Linked DNA regions of Homo sapiens: region 2 is linked to region 1. Evidence: fine-mapped expression QTL. A gene starts in region 1. The other region holds a variant in brackets. All regions are shown on one strand. Distances are from middle to middle.

Region 1 (4,399 bases):
AACTACAGTTAATGTACTGTATACAGTTAACCCTTGAACAACACAGGTTTGAACTGTATGGGTCTACTTATATGCAATTTTTTTTTCAAACTCAGATGGAAAATACAGTGTTCTAGAGATGTAAAACCCATGTATAAGCAGGGCTGACTTTTGTGTCTGCACGTTCTGCAGGGTTGACTGTGGGACTTGAATATATGTAGATTTTGGTATACCTGAAAGGTCTAGGAATCAATCCCCTGAATATACTGAGGTACTCCAAAACTACAAAGAGTAGATGTTAAATACTCTCAGCTCCCAAAAATGATGAGTATGTGAGGTGATGGATATACTATTTAGCCTGATTTAATAATTTCACAATGTATACATAAGCAGAACATCACATTGTACGTGGTAAATAGATACTATTTTTGTCAAATATAACTTAATAAAGCTGGAGAAAAAAAATAAAATTCTCCACTTCAAAAAAGCCTTAAAGGGGCCGGGTGCAGTGGCTCACGCCTGTAATCCCAGCACTTTGGAAGGCTGAGGCAGGCGGATCACCTGAGGTCAGGAGTTCGAGACCAGCCTGGCCAAAATGGTGAAACCCCGTCTCTACTAAAACAACAACAACAACAACAAAAATACCTGGGCGTGGTGGTGGGCACCTGTAATCCCAGCTACTTGTGAGACTGAGGCGGGATAATCGCTTAAACCTGGGAGGCGGAGGCTGCATTGAGCCGAGATTGCGTCATTGCACTTCAGCCTGGGAGACAGAGCGAGATTCCATCTAAAAAATAAAAAATAAAAATAAATCTTGAAGAAAAAAAAAACAATCATTTGCTATGCCTCCAGTATCCAAATTAAGCTCATTTTGATATTTGATGTTCGATATATTTGTACTAAGAGTACCTAATGTATAAAAATCTTTCTAAGCAACTATCAACTTGGAATCATGATTGATGTGCTGTCTATACATATTTTTTCTAACATGAGAAAGTGAGAACGCAGTCCCCCACTAAATTATGCAGTCGAGTTTCCCACATTTGGGGAAATCACAGAAGTCAGCACATCTGGAGTGAAATAAACAAGCTTCGCCCTGATTACAGGTTTGGCATATTCATGTTTAACAAACGCACCGGAACTAATTAAAGCAAATTTGGACTCCTACTCTATTATTAAAATAACTAATTCCTAAACTCATACATTATTCTTTCTTTTAAAGATCACTGATGTTAATGTTCAGCTAATATTTTCTTTTAAAAAATTAATGAAATGCTTTGGAATGTTCTCCAGTTATACAAACAAAAACAGACACATTCTGGAGAATCAATAAAATATTTGAAGTATTTTTTAAGACTGTACAGCTGGAGCTCCAGGTTTAAATTAGAGCTCTGCCATTTACTAGATATGGTTGGTCAAGAAAATTAACCTTGTATTTCATCGTCCATAAAATGGGAATAAAATAATAAGATCTACACTAATAGATTTGATGAAAGAATTTAATGAGATAATCTATGCGAAGTTCTTAGTCTGGCACCTGGCACATGAATAAGTGCATCACATAATGATGTTAGCTATTATTATTGTGGTTGCATTATCTTTCCGTTCAAAAAAGTACAACTTTCAAAGCCTTGCTGTGTTGGCGACCTGTAGTTTAATAATCTATCGCTTCTCTTTCAATCTTAATTTCTAAAGACACAGTAACAAACCATTCCAAATGAAGCGTCTCCCCTTGCAATACTTAACCTTGAGTCAACAATTCTTGTAATTATTAAATATTCATTCACTAAAGTAATTGTTTTTTTTAAAAAATAGAGGTGATAGGACAATGGCCTAACTACAGATCGCAATTAAACTTTATTTCTCTAAGGCAGGCAGGGTGAATTCTTTGCTCCGAACCTCCCGGACTCCTCTCCCTCTCCGACTTTGTATAACAGAGGGAGCTCCGAGCCCTCTCTGGCGCGCGAGGTATTTCGTCTGTCCCCGGGGGTGCCAGGTGAGCCCCAGCGGATCCGGGAGGGTAAGCTGGGACTCCTCGCGAGCAGTAGCTGCAGGGTACCAAGCTTCGCCCTCTGCGTCCCCGCGCCTTCGCGGTCTCCCGCCAGTGCAGGTCCGGGGCCCCCAGGCGAGCGGACAAGGTTGGCCTAATCTGCCAAACTTCTGGGGCATTTACCGTGCTCTGGCCGCCCTCCCGATTCTTCCCTCCGCGCCCTTGCCTGCTTCTCGCCTACCCCGGGCTCCGGAAGGGAAGGAGGCGTGTCCGGAGCAGGCGGGCGGGAACTGTATAAAAGCGCCGGCGGCTCAGCAGCCGGGCTTCGCTCGCCGCCTCGCGCCGAGACTAGAAGCGCTGCGGGAAGCAGGGACAGTGGAGAGGGCGCTGCGCTCGGGCTACCCAATGCGTGGACTATCTGCCGCCGCTGTTCGTGCAATATGCTGGAGCTCCAGAACAGCTAAACGGAGTCGCCACACCACTGTTTGTGCTGGATCGCAGCGCTGCCTTTCCTTATGAAGAAGACACAAGTGAGTAGGGCGCGCCCGGGAGCTCCCAGGCTCTCCAGGAAAAATCGCGCCCGGTGCCCCGGGGAAGCCGGCGCTCCCTGGGACTTGCAGCTGGGGCGTGCAGGGCTGTGCCTGCCGGGTGAGACAAGAGGATGCGGGGGAGGCCGGCGTGGTGTGTGATCCCGAGCCGAGCCGGGTGAGCCAGGGAGAAAAGGAGTGGGAGTGCTGAGAGGGAGCCAGTGTCAAGTTTGGAGCCTCAGCAGTTAAGTTTTGAGCTGTCAGTCGGAAACCGTAATTCCCGTCTGGTGGAAAGATTGGCTTTTGGGCCATGGAATGTTAAGTTATCACGGGAAGGCATGTCTTTGCATAGGAGACGGTTTTCCCGTGGATTCCAGGAGATTATGAAACAGCACCCCACGCGCCACCCTCACTAGCTCTCTCACTCAGATTTATTTGTGTAGCCCCGAGGTGGGCGCCGGGCACCAGGAGCGGCGCGAACGCGGGTGCAGCCGCGGGAGCGAAGCCAACGCGGAACTCCTAAGCGGCAGCTCTCGGCGGGGCGGGAACCTGCCCGCCTGCCCGGGAAACTTGGCTCTCGGCGGTGTCTGCCTAGTTTGCAGCTCTGTGTGGGCTCTAAAGAGCTCTAGTACCTCCACAATGCACGCACCTTTTTCCATTTCAAAAGGGATAAAGGCTTTTTATAAAATAGGCACCTCTGAATGATAGTGATTGAGATAATTCCCAGTGCTGCTAAATTCTGCATTATACATAAAGCACTGTGGGTAAAGCGCTGCCTGGGGGGACAATTAGATTTTTTTTTCCCTTGAAGAAAATACCTGGTTCTTCGTTTAGAAAGGGCCGCCACGGTGCCCCTATCCACAGTTCTCTTCACCATTGTTGATTGTTACCTCCTCTCACTTTCCCCCTTAGAAATTGTTATGTGTTATCTGCCGCGGTTGGCTAAGGGTTGCCCTTTCACCCCCCAGAGGTTCTGTTGGAGATTGCAGTTCCTGAAATGTGTGGAAGGGGTGGAAGTGGTGGGGAAAAAGGAAACCGGGGTGTTTGTACACATCGTTGGTGTAGAATGAAGGCATCAATGTGCTCAAAATGCTTTATCAAATGACCTGCTTAGCATCATATTTTAAACAGATATCTAGGCCTGCAAAAAGTTGCAAGACTCTAGCCCCTTGTACCGGTGTGGTAAAAGGCAGGGGAAAGGGACATTGCCTGGCTAAAAGAGGCTTGCATAGTCTCTAGAGCACTCTCTAAGAGAAAAGACGCGATGTGCCTCTCCCCTCTCTTACAAGCAGGTTAGCTTTCAGGCAAGGCATTGAGCACCGCACCTGGAATCACCACAGCGTGCTGTCGAAATGCAAATGTTAAAGATTCTTGCAACAAAAGAAAAGTTTTATTGTAATCTCTTGATTTAGACAAGCTTTCTGCGAAATTATAAGAAGGGTAGAGACCTATTCCTTCTTATAGTAGCATCTGCTCCCATGGATGGTGGTGAGATCTGGGGGAAGAAGCTGCTACCTTCTAGTTCAGGAAAAGAGCCTAAACCTTCCTATTTAAACAAGAACACAGGAGACAGATAAGGTTAATGTCCAACACTCCAAAGCCAGGGGATGTACTATCAAGTCACTTTGAGAGGCAGTAGGATTGATTATCCTTGCACCCTTGCTTTGCAAAACAAATGTGAGCTCTGTAATCTCCTTTCTCGCTTTGATTAAATGGCTGTGTAAATCGGATTACATGGAATAATTCCATTGAAAACTAGAAAGAGGTCAATCTAGTCTGAAACATTGTGACTGTGGCATTAGTGACTCAGTGCTGCCGACCAGAGAAATTTGAGAAAGCTAAGTATTTTAGATATGTGACCTGTTCGGTCACACATCACACAAGTTAAAGTGCAGGCCCTTTG
Region 2 (4,399 bases), 130 kb after region 1:
CCAGCTACTCAGGAGGCTGAAGCAGGAGAATTGCTTGAACCTGGGTAACAGAGGTTGCAGTGAGCCGAGATTGTGCCACTGCACCCCAGCCTGGTGATGGAGCAAGACTCCATCTCAAAAAAAAAAAAAAAAAAAAAAAAAGAAGAAGAAGAAAGAGAGAGCTCTTCCTGCATGCACACACCAGGGAAAGGCCATGCAAAAACATAACTAGGAAGAAGACCCTCATCAAGAACCTAACTGTGGTGGCACCCTGATCTCCGGCTTCCAGCCTTCAGAACCATGAGAAATAAATGTTTGTTACTTTAGTCACGCAGTCTATTGTAATGTGTTGTAACAGCCAGATCTAAGACACCCTCCCATCCCTTACCTCCTACTGAATTATTCTTTGATACAATCTGAACCAACACTGGCAGAACATTTTTTTTTTTTTTGCCACTTCCTTTATAAATGGCCCATCTTGCCTTAACCGTGGGAGTACTTGGCACTTACTGTTCTCAGCTTTGGGATCTTGGCCTAACTTCCCTGTGACAGTTAATTTTAGATGTCAACTCGACTGGATTAAGGAATACCTAGAGAACTGTTGAAGCATTATTTCTGGATATGTCTGTGAGGGTGTTTCCAGAGGAGATAGGTGTGTGTGATTGTGAACTGAGTAGGGAAGATTCACCCTTAATGTGGGGAGGCACCATCCAATCAGCTAGGGGCCTGATAGAACAAAAAAGGCAGAGGAAATATGATTTTTCTCTCTTTTTGTCTCCTGGAGCTGAGACATCCTTCTCCTCCTACTCTTGGACATCACCAGAACCTGAGGCTCTCTGACCTTTGGACTTCAGTGCTTCTCCATACTCGGGTTCTTGGGTCTTTGGCCTCAAACTGAGTTACAGCATTGCTTGTTCCAGGGCATTCAGACTTGGACTGAGCCACGCTACCAGCATCGTGGATCTCCAGCTTGCAGAGGGCCTATTGTAGAACATTTCTGGCTCCATAATTGCATGAACGAATTCCCCCAATAAATCCCCTCTCACTGATCTATCTATCTATTCACCCATCCTATTGGTTCTTTCTTTCTTGAGAACTCTGGCTAATAACACTTCCAAATGGGAAGATCCATAATTTGATATCCTGTTAACATTTCACCAAATGCTCTGTTTCTATAATAATGTCTTGAAAAATGAAAGTTGAAGTTCCTCTGAAATTAACGTGAGTTCTAGCATTCTAAAAGTGAACAATTAGAAAGTATCCATCCATTGCCTAATCTTGCCATTTAGTTTTATTCAAGGAAGAGAACACACAAGACTATTTCCTGAGGGAGGCTTCCAGAGAAAGTTCTGCTGTCTGAGGGTTACTATTTAAGTAAACTCTTAAGTAACTATGAATTGTTTTAAAATCCAATGGATTAGAGAAAAGCTTGATGAAATCACTCTTCCAAATACATGGAATTTGCTACTGTTAGCTTAACAATTTTTCATTTTCAATACATATCTCATCCAAATAAAGGAGGTTTAAATCTTCAGTAGTTCTTTACCCAGATGCATGCTTTATGAGATCAGTGAATTGCTAAAGAAAACAGATGATTCATGTATAATATACATGTAGAACTTTATCCTGCTGAGAAATCAAAAGGGATTTACTACTTGAAAGACTCATAAGATGAAATTTTATTATAAAAGATGATGTATGTCATTACAAAACATGTTACATGAGGTCCCATACATGAGGGATGACTACAAAATTGCTTAAACCAAGTGTTCTTTATTAGAAGCTTAAAAAGCACAAAGTTGGCGCAGGCAATAAATAAAAATTAGAGGTTGGCTGTCACCCAGGAATACCTAGCTCAA[T/C]GGCTGTGTCTTGAAACAAGATGTAAATAAAAGTAATTGCTAAAGCAAAATTCTATATTAGACACAGCTTTCCCACTAGACTTATACTATAAAATTGGAGATTATTTCTTCAGGTGAGAGAAATATGTCTAAATTATGCTTATTAATAATACTTCTTAAGATATGCAGCTTGAGCTAAAGAAAGAAATCATTGGTCCCAATGATATGATGCAAAGTGAAATATATAATCTAAAATAAAATGAATATATTCAAAATTAGGCATAATCAGGCAAGACAGAAGTAATCACACAGTATAGAGTACTTTGATGGTAGCAGATTCAAAGGCTTTTTAATTTGTCCAAATTTCAAAACTTGACTTACTGTCTGTCTCATGTCCAATTTCCTTAAGAGTCAAGGACCAATAATGTTTATCTGATAAATAATTTTATGCTAAAATGTCAATGATTGATTACAGCTTTATATCATTTTTATTTTGCATGATACCTTTGTAGGGTTTATTTTTCAGTTCTTTAAGTCCCTTCTGTAAAGATTATCACTGAATAATAAAAAAATTTAGTCACTTACCATGGAAGCTGGAAAGGAAGATGTTTTAGGGAAATGGTCCTTGGAGTAGGATACAGAGTATGCTTTCTTTGGAACACCCACTCTACTTGTGAGACCTTGGGTGATAAGAGTGATTAGAGTATAGACTCTAGAGTCAGAATGCATAAGTTCAAGTCCTCACTCTCCTACTCACTAGCTGTGTAAATGCAAAAGCTATTTCTCTCTGTGTCTCTGTTAAGGTAAAAAAGTGCCTACCACATAGAGTTCTTGTGAATACACAGTAATGTGATCTAAATGGTACCTAACCCATTCTGAGCACTATCTGCAGTCACCATTAAAATAATAATAACTATTATTATTATCAAATGAGACAATAACATGTAAGGGGCTTTGAACAGATGAATGCATAGTGAGCACATAAAAAGCTTCTGAGCTCCTCCTTTGTATGTATGTTTATGTTTATATTTGTACACATAGCCTGGTTCCTATTTAAGCATGTTTAATGAAGAGTCAGGTTTCCTAAGGGTTATCATAATTTTTCTACTATTTTAATCATTTATTTATTTAAAAAATTTACAGAACACTCAGCATATGCCAGGCACTATGCTAGCTATTAAGAATACAAGGATATTTCTTATCAACAACAGGAAAAGGGGTAAAGAGAAAAAGAGTGTCACAGAATGACAAAAAAAATCCCATAAAAAAGTGAAAAGTAAAAACAGGAAATCAAATACTACGTGTTCTCACTTATAAGTGGGAACCAAAGATTGAGTATACAAGGACATAAAGATAGAAACCATAGAAACTGGAGACAGTCAGAGCAGGGAGAGTGGGAGAGGGATGTAGGCTGACAAACTAACTATTGGGTACTATGTTCACTACCTGGGTGACGGGGTCCATACCCCAAACCTCAGCATAACATAATATACCCATGTAGCAAACCTGTACATATACCCCTGAATCTAAAATTTTAAATAAAGAAAAAGAAAAGCAGTGAGTAATAAATGATCTGCAATAACCATTTCTGAGCAAAGCTGCCCCGAGAATGAAAAAGAATTTGAAAGCTCAGACAGTACAATAAATTTTATTTAAAACATTAAAATATGTCCACTATATAAAAATAGGAAAGACCTAGGTATATGTGTAAGCAGGAGAGAAGAAACTGGCTGAGAGAGAGTACAGATGCCCCAAAAGAAGGAGAATGATTAAAGAAGGAATTTGCTTCAGGAATTCAGGAGAAAACATTAAGAAGGGCCACACACACACACACACACACACACACACACAAAATGCCAGAGAGATATTGAGATAAGACTGGAAGAAACGCACAAGTTGGACCCAGCTTGAAAGATCTCACTCAGCTAAATGCTGAGTGAGTATATGCTACGAGTTAAGATTAAATTTCAAGTAGAGGAAAGGAATCTGAAATGGCCTTCTAGGGAAGCCTAGCTGAGAGAAAAGAGCGATGAACTGAGAGTCCGGGGCTCTCAGTTCTAACTTGAATTTAGCGGATGGCTCTTGATTAGCCATTTACATTCCTCAAATGTAAAATTCAAGTATTGAACTCTGAGTCCTCGATACCCTGCCAACTTCAGAATACTACACAAATGATGATTAGAAGATTGCCACAAAACAGCAACATTTTAGTTGAAGTTGATCAGTGTGAAGTGGCAATAAATAAACGAGGACCAAAAATAAAAGTGCTTATCAGCTAATTTGAAGTTCCTATATAAATTGCTTACGGATCTTTGATGAGTTCGTAAAACTCATTTGTCCAGCTGTTTCTGAGTGAGGCCAGAAATCCTTTATAAACTCCATTTATCCTGGTAGGGTGCTGACCGATGCTGCACTGATAGTAGATGAGCAGGCAGAGTGATCCAGAAAATGCAGAATATCATTTTAGAAGACTGGCTTACATGTATGAGAGTCACATCTCACTTCCGGAAGGCATGTAATGTATGATGCCTGTATCATCTCAGTTATCTCATCTTCATTGGAGCCGTAGTACCCACAACTAC

Alleles and levels. Alleles are on the strand shown, and positions count from the first base shown. SD is a standard deviation of normalised expression in the study named.
With allele T in place of C in region 2, the expression in monocytes after R848 of the gene that starts at base 2,292 in region 1 is lower (moderate effect, 0.57 SD a copy in Quach 2016).

What was found. PIP is the estimated chance that this variant, and not a neighbour inherited with it, causes the effect. A credible set is the group of variants that fine-mapping cannot tell apart.
Region 2: its variant is the best candidate, but not a certain one, in a credible set for the expression of KITLG in monocytes after R848 (Quach 2016, PIP 0.84).

The regions. Positions count from the first base shown.
Region 1 is chr12:88,578,364-88,582,762 of GRCh38, reverse strand. KITLG (KIT ligand) reads left to right here and starts at 2,292. Exons shown (of 10, transcript NM_000899.5): 1 at 2,292-2,499. The coding sequence starts at 2,485. LOC105369885 (a long non-coding RNA gene) reads right to left here and starts at 2,227. Exons shown (of 4, transcript NR_188177.1): 1 at 2,153-2,227; 2 at 625-766. It also overlaps the pseudogene RNU1-117P.
Region 2 is chr12:88,450,664-88,455,062 of GRCh38, reverse strand. No RefSeq gene overlaps it. Among named protein-coding and RNA genes, the nearest start is that of KITLG, 130 kb to the left of the region's middle. The variant T/C (reference allele first, on the strand shown) is at 1,839.